Linked DNA regions of Homo sapiens: regions 1, 2 and 3 are each reported to be linked to region 4. The links are microRNA targets in miRTarBase. Many come from high-throughput screens and were not tested one by one. Region 4 holds a microRNA gene; each other region holds the end of a gene's coding sequence.

Region 1 (4,000 bases), not on the chromosome of region 4:
TTTTTGCTCTGAACTGCTACATGTAAATAGTCAACTGCAATGGTTAAGCTTTTTTCTTTAAGAAACGATTATGGCCAGGTGTGGTGGCTCATGCCTGTAATCCCAGCACTTTGGGAGGCTGAAGCAGGCGGATTGCTTGAGTCCAGGAGTCTGAGACCAGCCTGGGCAACATGGTGAAACCCTGCCTTCAGTCTCTACAAAAAATACAAAAATTAGCTGGGGATGGTAGCATGCACTTGTAGCCCCAGCGACTCGGGGGGATCACTTGAACCCTGGAAGTTGAGGCTGTAGTGAGCTGAGACTGCACCACTGCACTCTGGCCTGGGTGACAGAGTGAGACCCTGTCTCCAAAAGAAAAAAAAAAAAAAAGAAGAAATGATTACATGTATGTTTATCCCAGTCAGAATCTGATCCATTTAGTATTCTACCTAATACAAGTAACAGTGCTTCTCTGTGCCTTTTGTTTCAGTTATTTTCCTAACTTTTCTACCCTTTGGTGTGTTTCTTGAACAAAGACCAACTTGTGATCTCTTGATGTCTCTTTTTAAAACCCAAGAAGTGAGGATTTGTTTTCAAAGCCAGAAAATCCTGCCTTCCCAAATCCTCCCCACCAGGAGGAAGTCGTTACTGTTCACATCACCTTAAAAAGAACTAGAGTGCAGGCTGTATGTCTTCAAGGGACCAAAACTGTTACTAAAGACAGAACTTTGGGACAATACTAGTGGACCAATCTCACTGATACGGATTTGTAACTGCTTAAAATTTCAAAAGAAAAAAAATGACAGTAATGCTATAGTTTTGAAAATCAGCGAATTTGTGGGCAGGTGGCATGACTTATCAGTAACCTTTAGGGATTTTATACAATTCCCCCTCCCCCGACTCCCTTTCTTCTGCAGCTCTCAGTTCTTCCAGCAGGTGTCCCTATAATCACAGAACAGACATTCCACAGCAAGGTATGTAACTTTATTTTTCTAGCATAATAATTTAAAGTATTTACACACTGCACACTCACTGTTTTACACAGATACGTATTCATATATCTATGAACCACATCTAAAGGTTTCTTTGCAAAGACTCGACACACTGTTGGGGGGGGGGGAGCTTCCAAGCATAACAAAGAGGACAAAAAAAAGTTTTGAGTCTTTTAAAGACAGCCATGTGGAGCATCTGTGAAAACCAGTGTTTCCCCCGTTTTAAGCTCCCCCAGGAGACCTCTGAACAGCTATAGCCTATCCACATGTTGGTATGACCTGAAATTCTTCTAGCTAAGGTTTCAAGAACCAACATGTGCAAGCAGCATTTTTTCTAGAAATCTCAAAAAAGGAGAAAATAAACCTGGCCCTTACGTAGAGAAATACATCTATTTCTGAAAGTAATCTGTGGGGATTGTTTTACAGGGACACCGATTACAAGGGCAGAATAGCAAAATACACTATTACTAGTGATGCAGGGTGCTTTTAAATGTCACTTCCAGCTAAATGATATGGCAAAATAACCCAATCTTCTTTTCCCAACTATCAGTAAGGGTGGTTGTTATTTTCCCTGAAAAGAGCAAAGGTATATTTATTAATGATACACACTCTAAACCCAGATCCTATAGAAATTTCTTCTATTGCTTTTACTTCACTTTCATATTATTTGCACAAAAATAGTGGTTATCCTCCGTATTTTTTCCTCGCTTGTACTACTCAATTATAAAACAAATTATTAACGATAGCTTCTGAATTTGGTACATGGCATCATAGGTGAACAAAAAAAGCCACAGTTCAGAGCTGATGGTCAGTCCGTCTCTAGTCCAGCTTCTATAAAAGGAAGGCGGGTTTAGGTTTCAACTCTCTATAGTTGAATCTCCATGAGTAAGAAGGAGATGCCTTCCTTATTTTCCCAGACTGCCCAAGATTATTCTCTCATCAACACAAGGTAGAGGTTTGCCACCTCTACATGAATTCACAACTCCACTCTGTGACTGGGTGGCACATCAGTTCGCTAAGAAGTTAAACTTTACAAAATGACGTCCTCTTCCTCTTGCCGGTATGGGCCTCTGGCAGTGTCACTGATCAATAGGACATGGCAAAAGTAACTACCTGGAGAACTAAAACTAAGCATAATCTTGGCCTGAACTACTACGGTAAAGATAGTATCTTTTATTTCTGTTTATGTAAACTTATCAACAAATTATTAAAGCAGAAACTCTATCACTTCTTGGAACTAAAGATTTACATCTAGCTATAACAATAGAAACCTACCTATCCTGGAGTTAACTTTCTCAGATTACTGCTCCTGACTTTTGCTGTTCTTTTCCTTTTGCAAGGGGGTGCCAACAATGGATGGAAGAGGCAAGGAGATCTTACTTTATAGGAATTTCTCCAAGTTACAACGAGCAACTGACCAAATCATATTCAACTACAGGTGTTGAGAGAGAGAGTACCTGACTTCAGACCACCTGGGAAGCACAATGCTTAGTTAACAAGAATATCTGGATTAAGCAGTGCCGAAGTGGCCGCACACCGAGTCAGGCCAAGGAAGCTCTTCTGTCATTGCCGCCCAACTCTGTTCCACTTTGCATGCAGACATATCAAAGACTGTGATGAAGATCATGGTGGACAAGGAAGAATGAAAAACTTTGTGATGGGATCTGGGCCTCTACATTAGAGAAAGAACCTAACAAACCCCAGTTCTTTGGATTCGTAAGGTGAGGCTGAGGAGGGCTTACTGGAGTTGGAGACAGGGAGAGCTGTGTTTCTGGGCTCAAAGCCAAGAAACGGTTAAGAAGAGGGGCTTGCATCAGTCATATAGATTAAAAAGAGCAAGGCATGATAATTACTAAATTTATAGTTTCATGTTTTAACACAGAAGAGTCAGAGGGAAAACTGACAATTTAAAACGGGGCATGGGATGAGAAAAAGTCTAGGAGTTACTGAGATGCCTGGTACTTATCTACAAAACTTCCATCACTAGACCCTTTTGACCTACGAGAATAGCAGTTTCTATGGTTCAACCTAATACACTGTATGGGCTCAAATATATAACAATTAGAATTGAGAGTAATCAGAATACCAATAATACCCCCCCTTCTGAAAAAGTAACAGCTCTTAGATGAAGAGAGCTTCTTAAGATCAGCGTTTAAGAGTCAAAGCACCTGTAAGGGAGAGTTAACGACCCTTTCAAATCAAGTGAGGGCAGAAGGGTGAGGGCATAGTTCAAAGGAACGAGGCAGCTCCACCGGAAGGTGGCGAGTAAAAGCTGCACACCGTGGCAAATCAGTAGCAATGGGAAAGGGCAGGAAGGTACAGCCAAGAATAGCTACAAACAACTGGTCACCTTCAAAGGAAACGCTGCATATGGATGTCTGTGTATATGTACTATACATATCAACCAAGCACACACATAAATATTTAATATATAAAAAATAAAGTGCTTTCTAACAGGTCCCTGGGCAGGGACATTATAAAACATTTCACAGAACTGCAAAACAAAATTGATACAATCAAAGAACACTACATCCAACATATGTGAAAACAGCCAAACACAGTATGTACAATCTGGTGGGTGTCCCAGGACAAACATCCTGTCATATACATGGTATATACATATATACTCTTTTACTCAATATATTATGACAATATATATTTTAAAATTTTGTTATAGACAAAAAATAAAAAACCAAAACAAAAGACAACCCCTACAAAAACACGATAAGGATCAAGCAGGTGAGTCCTAGACTGACAGACAAATCACTGCCTCCACGGGGAGTCCCATTGCCACTGCTGGGGAAAATGTGCCAGCGTTCCTTCCTTGGGTGCAGGGCCTCCACATCCTCCAAGGCACTGTGGGCTGCGGCAGTAAAGTTGGCATCACCAGTGGTGAGCAGGTCGAAGACACAGGACTGGAAATAGATGTCCTTCACTGGCATCTTCTCATGGCATTGAGTGTTGGCAGTCTCCAGTGTGTAGCCAGGCCAGGCCTGCACCAAGGAGGTGCGAGGCAGGCTGTGTCCCAG
Region 2 (4,000 bases), not on the chromosome of region 4:
GCCCTTTTCTTGCTCAGGGAGCCTAAAAGCACCCCTTCTAGGGAGTCCTCCTAAAAATAGTGGGTTATTTTTGAATGGGTAAGATTTAAATGCTCTTTGGTTTCCCACAGAAGCAATCTGATCTCAGATCAAGCATCAGAAAGGGGCCAGGGGCATGGTGGCTCACGCCTGTAACCCCCGCACCTTGGGAGGCTGAGGCAGGCGGGTTAAGAGTTCAGGACCAGCCTGGCCAATATGGTGAAACCCTGTCTCTACTAAAAACACAAAAATGAACTGGGCATGGTGGTGAGTGCCTGTAATCCCAGCTACTCAGGAAGCTGAGGCAAGAGAATCGCTTGAACCCAGGAGTCGGAGGTTGCAGTGAGCTGAGATCTCGCCACTGCACTCACTCCAGCCTAGGTGACAGAGTGAGAACCCATCTCAAAAAAAAAAAATATCAGAAAGGGGCCAAGCGCAGCAGCTCATGCCTGTAATCCTAGCACTTTGGAAGGTCGAGGCAGGAGAATTGCCCGAGCCCAGGAGTTTGAGACCAGCCTGGCCAATATATAGGAAGACTTCATACCTGGAAAAAAAATTTTTTTTTTTTAAAGAATCAGACAGCTGTGTGTGCCTCATGTTTAAATCTGTAACTTAGAAAGTCCCTTGTTTCCCAGGGCGACCTCCGGCGGATGTGGTCTGAGCCTTTCCACTCCAAGTCCAGCAGCTCCCGATTCCTGGAAGTATGATGGATCACGTGGAAAGTGACCAGATGGCCGTCATAGTCCTTTTCTCTCAACTCATGGTTTGTTTCCTCTTAGAGCTGGCCTGGTACTCAGAAATGTACCTGTGTTTAAGGAACTGCCGTGTGACTGGATTTGGCATTTAAAGGGAGCTCGTTTGCAGGAGAGAGGTGCTGGAGCCCTGTTTGGTTCCTTCTCTTCCTGCGGATGTAGAGGTGGGGCCCCTTCCAAGAGGGACAGGCCTCTCCCCAGCGCGCCTTCCTCCCACGTTTTTATGGATCTGCACCAGACTGTTACCTTCTGGGGGAGATGGAGATTTGACTGTTTAAAAACTGAAAACAGCGAGGAGTCTTTCTAGAACTTTTGAACACTAAAAGGATGAAAAAAATTAGCAAACCGAAGTTTCTTCAATGACCCCTCGAGAACTTTGGGACCAGTTTCCTATAGGGGACTCAGTTTCAGAGAACTGAGACAGAAGCTCTTCTGTCGTTATATTCTTCTTTCCTTTTTTTGGATTTATTAAATATTTTCTGTGGTGTGAAGTGACTTATTAAATCCACAGACATTGAGTGACTTCTTACAACATCCACATAAGAATTTGTTGTAATGAGTTCATGTCCACCCAGATGTTGTGTTGGCAGTGAACAAGGGCACGGTTTTTATACATACGTACATATATATATATAAACACACACATAGATATATATGAATAAACAAAAATGAAATCCTGCTAAGATCACGCTGTGTAGCTGACAGGGGCTTGCTGTCGTTTTGAGCATGTCGAGCAGTTTACTGTGGCTTCCTTGTATATGGATAAGCTGCTGTCCTTCCCCTTCACAACTGACCCCGCAGTTACAAACTAGTATAGCATTTGTGCTGATTGATGATAGACTCATGGACTTCAGGAGCCCTTACTTGGTTTTGATCAGTGTAGCAAATTAGGGATGAAGAGTTCAAACCTTTTGGCCCTTTCTTTCTTTTCTAGGCTTCTCCCTCGCAGGGTGTTCCGTAGTTTCTTCTCGAGCCAATGCATGTATTATAGCAGCAGGTGTCTTTGTGCTTTCTCATCATAGTAACGTACTACTTGTAAATACATTTTTCTATTTTCTATTTTTTTGTATTTTTTTTTTTGACATTTTGTTTCATTGGTGTGCTGTATATTTTCCATGCCCTCACTCCTTTAAGAAAAAAAAAAAGGAAAAAAGCAACACAATCCTGTCCTTGCTGTTGTGATTATAGTCTTGGTTTACCTGTGGTGACAACCGGGTGTTGGGGACACATGTCAAATGCCCCTCTGAGATGGGCCCTAAATTCCAGTAACTGGGGAAAGAACCAGCTGCTGTGTCCTGAGAGCCTGGCCCTGTGCTGTGGTCTCTGCTGCAAGCCCAGATTTCTGGGAGTAACTAGTGTTAGGTCTGCTGACCTTTACCTAAGCAGCCCCTGCCTGGTAAGAAGGTGCCCATTGTTCAGAGGCAAAGAGAAGCCTGCGGTTGGCATGAGGATGCCTGACAACAAAGGCTGGAGAAGGGCCCTGAGTTCCAGCCTCTCCCCAAGGGTCCCCGCCCCAGTGGCTGCCTCTGTCTTGACCTGTGTAATGAATTAGTGTGCTGTGTCACTGTGGCTTGAAGTCACTGTGGATCGAGCTCACAGGGGGCACCCATCCTGTTGTCAACAGAGTCTGAAGCAGTCAGGGTGTTGGATTCCTCTGTTGTTGTCATCAATTCCTGCTGAGGGGTTTCTGGGGTTTTGTTTTTAATAAATGACTCCTTTGTAGCCTTTGTCACATAATCTTCACTTTGGTTGTTGGTACCAAACAGAGCTCCCAGCCATCTCCTCCCTGTTCTGGAAGACTGATGGGAAGACTCTGTCTGTCCCCAGACCTGGTCATCTGCAGCTCTGGCCCAGTCATAGATACATCAAAGAACTGAAGCTTCTGCTGTCCACAGAACTCAAAACTGCCTCTGCATTGGGTGAAGACTAAAAATCCACTTGCGGACTCTCCCTTCCTTCCTTCTCAGCCCTCGAGGATGCATATAGCTAATTAAGCAGGCCCAGAGACAGAGAGGGGGGCTCCAAAATGACTCGGATTAAGGGCAAGTGCCAGTGATGGGTAGAAATAACGTTATCCTTCATGCCTGTAATCCCAGCACTTTGGGAGGCCGAGGCAGGTGGATCACAAGGTTGGGAGCTCGAGACCAGCCTGGCCAACATGGTGAAACCCCGTCTCTACTAAAAACACAAAAATTAGCTGGGCATGGTGGCAGGCGCCTGTAATCCCAGCTATTTGGGAGGCTGAGGCAGAAGAATCGCTTGAACCTGGAAGGCGGAGGTTGCAGTGAGCAGAGATTGCGCCACTGCACTCAAGTCTGGGCGACAGGGTGAGACTCCATCTCAAAAAAAAAAAAAAAAAGGAAATGTTATCCTGGCAGTGGGTCATTTTAATTTTTCTGTCTTTGTTTTCATAAGAAAATTAAATTCCAGACAGAAGGAACGTCGTTATTTTGTCATTCTCACTTCTGTGCAGGTTTTGGGGGGAAATACCCACACAGGGCTGTGAATGCACCCTGGATTCCAGTTGCTAATCTTCAAAGCCCTTAAAACACTCCCTTAAAACTTTGGCAGAGAAACAGCAAATACTCTACTCGTCTCGGAGGGTTGAGTGGGTGGCTGCAGTTAAAGCACACATTAGACTTCCCTTCCAGTGCTCGTTTGCTCCCCGCTGCCTGATACACTTAGGTCCGCCTCTTATTCTGTTTTCTCAAATACCATGGTTTAGGGGTTTTCTAGGAAGTCTGCTGCATTAGGCATGGCATGCTCATGAAATTTCAGCAGATTCCTTCCTCACTGATCTGAAGTCCTTTTTCCTCACAAAGAGACTGTGTGTTACTAGAACTCCCGCTTTTTAATAACTCTTTTTTCTAGTTTGAGCTAATGAAGATATGACAGTAAAGTCTGTCCAAAGCCTAGTGTGTTCCATTGCTGTTATTACAGTGCATACGCTTTCTGAATGTGACAGTGACAGCTCCCCGCATAGGAACGGTTCGGTGGCTTGGGACTAAGCTACTGTCTGAATTACTTTTGTAGCAGGCTCACAGGCCTTGGGTAAACAGGTAAGTTAGGTCACCCACAAGAAAAACAAAAGTACTCGTTCTCTGTGAGGGTGGAGGGGAAGGGAGTTCCATTTTGCCAATCAAGTGTTAAAAATAGAACCTGCTGTGTCTGCTTAGCAGCTCTCACGTTACTGCTCACCAGATCCCATGTTGTGTGTACGTTTCTGTTTT
Region 3 (4,000 bases), not on the chromosome of region 4:
ACCATTTGACCCAGCCATCCCATTACTGGGTATATACCCAAAGGATTATAAATCATGCCACTATAAAGACACATGCACACGTATGTTTATTGTGGCACTATTCACAATAGCAAAGACTTGGGACCAACCCAGATGTCCATCAATGATAGACTGGATTAAGAAAATGTGGCACATATACACCATGGAATACTATGCAGCCAAAAAAAAGGATGACAAGGACATGGATGAAGCTGGAAACCATCATTCTCAGCAAACTATCACAAGGACAGAAAACCAAACACCGCATGTTCTCACTCATAAGAGGGAACTGAACAATGAGAACAGTACTTGGACACAGGGCGGGGAACATCACACACTGGGCCTGTCAGTGGGTGGGGGGCTGGGGGAGGGATAGCATTAGGAGAAATACCTAATGTAAATGATGAGTTCATGGGTGCAGCAAACCAACATGGCACATGTATACCTATGTAACAAACCTGCACATTGTGCACATGTACCCTAGAACTTACAGTATTAAAAAAAAAACTCAGTAATATATTTAGTTAAGGAGCTATAATTCACATAGATTATATAGTACACAATACTAAATAGATTTTTTAATGTGCTCTGTTCTCTGAAAATAGAAATTAGATCTTCCACAAAAATTGACCTATATAAACAACACTTTACACAGTAATATTTTGGTACCTACGATTATGTACAGAGGGAAACCTGTTTCTATGTGGACTCCAATCACAAATGACTCCTTCTGAAGGAGTGTAAAAATTATTCCCATGAGCTGGGTGTGGTGGCACGCACCTATAGTACCAGCTATTTAGGAGGCTGAAGCAGAAAGATTTCTTGAGCCCAGGAGTTCAAGGCTGTAGTGAATTAAGACTGTGCCACTGCACTCCAGCTGGGGTGACAGAATGAGACCTTGTCTAAAAAAGAAAAATGTTCCCACTGGCAAGAATTCTGTTGTTTTGATATCTCCCAACACAGGAAAAGAGAATTAGAGAGGGGCTAAAACTGCTGGGCCACTCTAAGAGAAGAGATCCCAACCCCAACTAAGAATATAGGCAGTCTACACTGTCCAGATAGTAAGGCAAGGATAAAATGATGTAAAGTTAATAAACACTGTACACTATGTGTAAAGCAAATTCTTATAAATACACAAAGACTGAGAAATTTCTACCAAAGTATGAATACAAAACAAAAATGTGAAATCTTGGTTCAAACTGGCATGGCACTAGTTAACAGTGGACATTTAGGTCAGACAGAGTCAACCCAAAAAGAAATCCGGGTGAAAACAGAAACTTTTTCCTTGGCTAGTGAGTTTTAATTGGATATTTCTTGAAGAACTTTAACTTTTCTCTCATAATTTCCATCTATTGCCTTTGTGCTCTATGTTTATGCTAAGCACACTGCCACATGTTTTTGTTACTTTACTGTATTCCCTTCAGCCTCTATATCTTGTCTATCACTGACATAAGGTGTTCAGCACACTTTTCTTCACCCAAAATTGCTGTACCACGCCCCCCAAATTTGCTAGTATTTGAGAATGGACTACGTAACTCATTTAAACCAGGGCAGCAGAATCTGCCAGCACTAGACTTCAAGGGCTAAGTTAGGTCTGAGCCTATTATATGGCTTTTAAGGGTGAAGGAACTGAATAATACATTATGAAGATTAATATCTCAGGGTGACTAGACAATTCTTCATGCTGGGCTAGTTCACCTCTTTGGGATGGAGGACTGGGCTCTAAGAAGAAATATCTTCTAGTATTTAAAACCAAAAAATCCCACATCTTCTCAGGACAGAATCAAGTGAGAAACAGATGCTTCAGTCAAACTGCCACTAAACAGTGATAACTATAACATTTTGCTCTGATACAGTAGACTTTTTATTTGTTTTGGAAAGTGATTCTAAGATTTTTACAAATAGAGTGTCTAGTCTACAGAGCAATACTACTGAGTTTGGTGACTACAGGAAAGTAATAGTTCTTGCATAACAATGGAAAAAGTTAGTTGTACTGTACTTTCTAGTTTGGAAAGTAATATATTGCTATGTATATAGCCAATAATAAATTTTATTTAATATGTAAGTACTAGTTAATAAAAAAATTCCTGATTTTTTCTACTTTGAAAACTAAAAAGTAAGAGATAAGAAAATTTTAAAAATTTACCATTTAAGTCTCTTTGATTCTGGAAATATTTTAATTAGGTTCCACTTTAAAAAAAAAGTAGCTTCCTTATGACCTCCACAGTGAGTACATTAACTACATTTTCACAAACAGAAAACTTACATACATTCAACTGTTTACAAGACATGTCTCCATATAACACATTTACATTCATGTGAAATCTATGAACTTCTTTAATTGCATATATTTATGACTCTTACATCTGGTACCTTTTAAAACAGCTAACATATAGTATGCTTATTTCCTATAAGTTAATTAATATATGACTATTTAAGGTGAGAAGAGTCTCATTTGAAGAATTACAATAGTTATATTCATACCATGGGAAATCAATAGTTTTTCTAAACATAAATTTCAAGCTAAAGCTTTAGCAATTTAAGTTATTTAACTACCAATGCATGAAATTCTTATCAGATTGTCCCATTTGGATTACAGTTTAAGTCATTTCAAGCTGTTCACAATTATTTGTGCATTGGTGGGGGGGAAAGCACCAAGGATAATAAATTGATTTTTCACATCACAGATGAAATCACAGCGCAATGATTTCAATATCCCTTCAAAAATCTAATCATTTATAAAGAGCATTTATTTCAAATGCTCAATCTTTAAGCTTTCTTAGTGTGATCAACTGATACACTAGGGATAAGAATGGAAATGGTTAAAAACAGATGCTATACATAATACTTACTAACTTAACAGAATTCAGATTTCTCCTAACATTGTTGATTTCCATTTTTGAACTGACTTCTTTAGATCTAAAAAGAACTCTGAAAGTAAGTGTAACATTTATACACTTGTCAACTATACTTAAAAAGAAACTCTGAAGGTGCCTTTCTTGTCAAAATACAAAACAAAAGTTTTCCTGATGAACAAGGCACCTTGTATGGTAAGGAAATATATAAAGAAAATATTTTCTACAAATTAATATATAAATCTATGTGCACAAAGGTGTAGTTCTCCCAGCTGCATATGTAATATTTTAAATAACACACAATAAAAAAATTCAAAACACAGATTGAAAAAATAACCCATGTGGCTAATACTCCAGTTGTTAAATATTGCAGCATATATGTCACTGTAACAATTGGGAAAGATATTCTAATCTAAACGGTTAATGAAATCTCTTTGGAAAGACACTTTAAAAGTCCCCAATATGTAACCCTGGCTGTCAAATTTCAATCTAGAAGTTTTAACAGCTAAGATGCAATCCCATGAAAATAAAAGTGTGCACAAAGGCCAGCTCATCAGACTCTGCAGTACATAGCATTACTGCTGTGACTTTGGTACGAGCCTGCTGGGCTTTTATGTTCCTTTTCATTACTATGTGCACATGGTAAACATCATATTAACAACAATCGATTTTTATCACTATAAGTTTTGCTGCTCACAGAATGCTAACAAACATTGTTTTAAACATTTCCAGATCATGACAACAGTTCCTTACCTGAACATAAACAAAGAAAACCTTAGATTTAAAAACATTTTTAAGTGAACACATAAATGCATAAGGAGAAACATAAGAACATACTATTTTTATAAGTATAAAAAGTTCCAGCTTCTGCTAAGATTTCATTTCTTTTTCCCAGTGTTTTTTTTGTGTTCATGCGTTTCTGTTTTGCTAGTTATATTCTTTTTCCGAGATGAGGTATTAGGAACAACTGCACTAGAAGGTCCACTTGTAGCTACATAAAACAAAAACAAAAAAAAAAAACTATTGCTTAAATTTACACAAACAATCCAAGTTCAAATAATACTGCTGATTGACAAAACAATTCTTGTTATAATTGTGATGTAAATGAAATGTAAAAATTTAATATA
Region 4 (4,152 bases):
AATATCCACAGAATTATGCTGTACAATGCTTCTGATTTTCCTACTGATAAACAGTTATTAGAAAATAATTGGATAAAAATAATTAGTAGGACAGTTGAAGGTGTTTCTCTAATATGCATTAACTGTTATTTATTTATTTATTTTTTTCTTTTTTCCTGCGGACCCCGTTCTGCTGAGAGCATCAACTATTCTTAATGGTGATCAGCTTCCAAGTATTCTTTTTTTTTTTTTTTTTGGAGACAGAGTCTCGCTCTGTCCCAGGCTGGACCAAGTATTCTCTTAATGGTGATCAGCTTCCAAGTATTCTCTCTCCACCTTGTCAAGGTTATCTTATCAATTGGTCTTGGTTAGATTTTTATTTCTTTTTTTTAATTTCTTTTTTTTTTTTTTTTTTTGAGACAGGGTCTTGCTTTCTTCCCCAGGCTGGAATGCAGTGGCATTATCATAGCTCACTGCAGCCTCAGGCTCCTAGGCTCAAGTAGTCCTCCCACAACAACCTCCAAAGTAGCTGGGACTGCAGGCACATACCACCATGCTTGGCTAATTATTATTTTTTTTAGAGGCGAGGTCTCACTGTGTTGCCCAGGCTGGTCTCAAACTCCGGGTTTCAGCCTGTGCCCGGCCTTCTTTCATATAAAACCAGGATCCAATTAAAGCCTATGTAAACTTAAGATGTATGTATTAACTGAAGAAAAAACAGAGCATGCATCATTCAACATTCATTCAGCAAATGATTATTTAGTGCTGGACACTGTTTTAGGTACTGAACAAACTGTAGATAGAACAAACAAGGTCCATCTCTCATGGAGCTTACATTCTAGTGGGACAGGGAAGAGACAAAAAATAAGCAAGTAAATAAGGTCATTTCGAACGATAAGTGCAATGAAGGAAAATAGGATAATGTTTTCCCAGCACCATTTATTGAGTAGGGAAGCCTTTCCCCATTCTTTGTTTTCATCAGGTTTGTCGAAGATCAGATAGTTGTAGGTGTGCGGTCTTATTTCTGTATTCTCTATTCTGTTCTATTGGTCTGTGTGTCTCTTTTTGTACCAGTACCATGCTGTTTGGTAACTGTAGCACTGTAGCATAGTTTGAAGTCGGGTAGCATGATGCCTCCAGCTTTGTTCTTTTTGCTTAGGATTTGCCTTGGCTATTCAGGCTCTTTTTTGGTTCCCTATGAATTTTAAAATAAAATTTCCTAGTTCTGTGAAGAATCTCAGTGGTAGTTTAATAGTAATGGCATTAAGTCTATACATTGCCTTGGGCAGTGTGGCCATTTTAACGATATTGATTCTTCCTATCCATGAGCTTGGAATGTTTTTCCATTTGTTTGTGTCATCTCTGGTTTCTTTGAGCAGTGGTTTGTAGTTCTCCTTTCACCTCCCTAGTTAGCTGTATTCATAGGTATTTTCTTTTCGTGGCAATTGCAAATGATGGGAGTTTATTCCTGATTTGGCTCTCTGCTTGGCTGTTATTAGTGTATAATAATGCTAGTGATTTTTGCACATTTATTTTGTATCCTGAGACTTTGTTGAAGTTGTTTATCAGCTTAAGAATCTTTTGGGCTGAGACTATGGGTTATCTAGATATAAGATCATGTTGTCTGCAAACAGGGATAGTTTGACATCCTCTCCTCAATCCCATTACTGGGTATATACCCAAAGGAATATAAATCATTCTATTATAAAGACACATGCACACACATGTTCATTGCAGCACTATTCACAATAGCAAAGACATGAAATCAACCTAAATGCCCATCAATGATAGACTGGATAAAGAAAATGTAGTACATATACACCATGGAATACTATGCAGCCATAAAAAAGAACGAGATCATGTCCTTTGCAGGGCCATGGATGGAGCTGGAGGCCATTATCCTTAGCAAATCAATGCAGGAACAGAAAACCAAATACTGCATGTTCTCACTTATAGGTGGGAGCTAAATGATGTGGACACATGAACCCATAGAGGGGAACAACACATGTTGAGGCCTATCAGAGGGTGAAGGGTGGGAGGAGGGAGAGGATCAGGAAAAATGACTAATGTGTACTAGGCTTAATACCTGGGTGATGAAATAATCTGTGCAACAAAACCCCATGACACAAGTTTACCTGTGTAACAAATCTGCACATGTACCCCTGAACTTAAAGTTAAAAAAAAAAAGAAAAATAGGATAATGTGATAGAAAGTTAAGGAGTCAGCTAAGGCTATTTTGAGATGGTCAGGGAAGTATTTTCTGATAAAATAGCACTTGAGCTATGACCCTAATGGCAAGGAATCATCCTATTGGCCAGAATGTAATTGTGGGGGAGTGATATGAGAGGGAGATGAGGAGTGTAGAAGATATCAAAAATGTAGGCAGAGGCTATGTCATGTTTAGGCCTTCATGGGCCTTGGTACTGTTTGGATTTTATCTAATACTTAAGAGTCCATGAAACATTTTTTTTTTTCTAGAAGAATCTGTGTAAGATTGGTAGTATTCTCCAAATTCTGGGGGAGGAATTCAGTGCTCGAAGATATTGCAAGTCCTACAGAAATTTCACTGGCACGTTAAATCTTTAACATTTTAATAATCTCTGGAGTAATTTCATTATTGAGCCTATTGTGATCATATCCTGATACTTGTATAAGTGCCACCTAAATAATTAATGTGCCTTGAGTCCTTTATCTGTCTAAAATGGTTATAATGACCTTCCTCTAACAAACTCTGTGATGTGCACAAAGAATTATGGTTTTTTTTCCTCAGTATCAAGAGTAGCATTCAAATTGCTGTGCTTCTATAAATAGACAACTTAAGATTGAGAAGAGTATTGTATTGAGATTTGCAAATATATGATTGTCTTATTTTACCCTAATTTTTTCCAGCAGAAATGCAGTATCCATTTCTAACCTCCCAAATATATATATATATGTACGTATGTGTATATAAATGTATACGTAGATATATATGTATTTTTGGTGGGTTTAATTTTTTTCATCTTTTTTCATAGTTTTTTTAGGGGCTTCATTTAACTTCTGGTTAAGTCTTGATTTCTTTTATCTAAAGCATGTAGAATTTTAAGAAAACTATTCCCTGAATGTGGTTTTCTGTGTTATAAACTTTTGTATTTGTGCATATTTATGGAGCAATGCTTTGGGGAAAATAACAATTTTTATTCAGCCCCTTGCTTAAATCCTTAATCCTTTTTAGCTATAAAAGTACGTAGAAGTTCTTATCGTCCATTACAGTTTTTTAATGTTAAAAAGTTGAGCAAGTTTTCACATTTAAAGGTAAATATCCTATTGCAGAATAATAGAATATTGCTGATGGGTAACTTTCTTATGCAAATTACATTGTCCCATTTGGCATAAAATTTCTGAGCATCTATCAGTATTCAGAAATCTAAGCCCTTTAGGCTGGGCACAGTGGCTCACACCTATAATCCCAGCACTTTGGGAGGCTGAGGTGGGTAGATCACTTGAGGTCAGGAGTTCAAGACCAGCCTGGCCAACAAGGTGAAACTCTGTCTGTACTAAAATTACAAAAATTAGCCAGGTGTGGTGGCACGCGCCTATAATCCCAGCTACTCGGGAGGCTGAGGCAGGAGAATCACTTGAACCCGGGAAGCAGAGGTTGCAGTGAGCCAGGATTGTGCCACTGCACTCCAGCCTGGGTGACAGAGTAAAACTCTGTCTCAAAAAAAAAAAAAAAAAAAAAAGAAGAAGAAGAAATCAAAGCCCTTTAAGGGCCTTTGATTTATTAATGCTACATTTTCTCATTTGTACCCCTTTAAAGCATATTTTTAAAGAAAAGATGTCATCATTTGGTCTCTATTTCTTTTCTTTTTCAAACAGGAAACAGAGAACACTGCATACAAAGTTGGAAATGAGTCCCCTGTACAAGAATTGAAACAAGATGTGTCTAAAAAGGTTGGAAAGATACAATGTCAATATTAGTTTATAGCAGACATCATATTTATATGGTATATTTCAAACAGCTTTTATATTCTTTTAGTATAGCGCTCTGTACATGGCTGATGTTCAGCAAATGTTTCATGAATCTGTCACATTTGTGGTTGAAGACATTTCAGTCTTTTTAGAAGTCCTTTTCATATTCTAATTGGTAATTTATCCTTGAGACAATATTTTGTAAAATGCTTTTATTTTTTG

What was found. The annotated mature microRNA hsa-miR-1277-5p reads AAAUAUAUAUAUAUAUGUACGUAU and lies in region 4 at 2,899-2,922, shown strand. An mRNA with a match to its seed (bases 2 to 7 or 8) in the 3' UTR can be bound and repressed. Matches are read on the target gene's strand: a 7mer-m8 pairs with bases 2 to 8, a 7mer-A1 pairs with bases 2 to 7 and ends in A, and an 8mer does both.
Region 1: the mRNA of RGMB is a reported target of hsa-miR-1277-5p. Seed matches in the 3' UTR shown: 7mer-m8 at 3,622-3,628, 7mer-m8 at 3,609-3,615, 8mer at 3,397-3,404 and 7mer-m8 at 3,021-3,027.
Region 2: miRTarBase lists SPPL3 as a target of hsa-miR-1277-5p. The part of its 3' UTR that is shown has no 7-base or 8-base seed match.
Region 3: miRTarBase lists PPIP5K2 as a target of hsa-miR-1277-5p. Seed matches in the 3' UTR shown: 8mer at 3,105-3,112, 7mer-m8 at 3,076-3,082, 8mer at 2,439-2,446, 8mer at 2,034-2,041 and 8mer at 531-538.

The regions. Positions count from the first base shown.
Region 1 is chr5:98,793,436-98,797,435 of GRCh38, reverse strand. RGMB (repulsive guidance molecule BMP co-receptor b) reads right to left here. Exons shown (of 3, transcript NM_001366508.1): 3 at 942-4,000. The coding sequence ends at 3,683. Among named protein-coding and RNA genes, the nearest start is that of RGMB, 22 kb to the right of the region's middle.
Region 2 is chr12:120,761,724-120,765,723 of GRCh38, reverse strand. It overlaps SPPL3 (signal peptide peptidase like 3), which reads left to right. Exons shown (of 11, transcript NM_139015.5): 11 at 654-3,214. The coding sequence ends at 725. Among named protein-coding and RNA genes, the nearest start is that of ACADS, 38 kb to the right of the region's middle. RefSeq lists a silencer at 2,463-2,626.
Region 3 is chr5:103,201,386-103,205,385 of GRCh38, reverse strand. It overlaps PPIP5K2 (diphosphoinositol pentakisphosphate kinase 2), which reads right to left. Exons shown (of 31, transcript NM_001276277.3): 31 at 1-3,864. The coding sequence ends at 3,752. Among named protein-coding and RNA genes, the nearest start is that of MACIR, 55 kb to the left of the region's middle.
Region 4 is chrX:118,383,503-118,387,654 of GRCh38, forward strand. It overlaps MIR1277 (microRNA 1277), which reads left to right and starts at 2,892; the gene lies at 2,892-2,969. WDR44 (WD repeat domain 44) reads left to right here. Exons shown (of 20, transcript NM_019045.5): 3 at 3,838-3,912.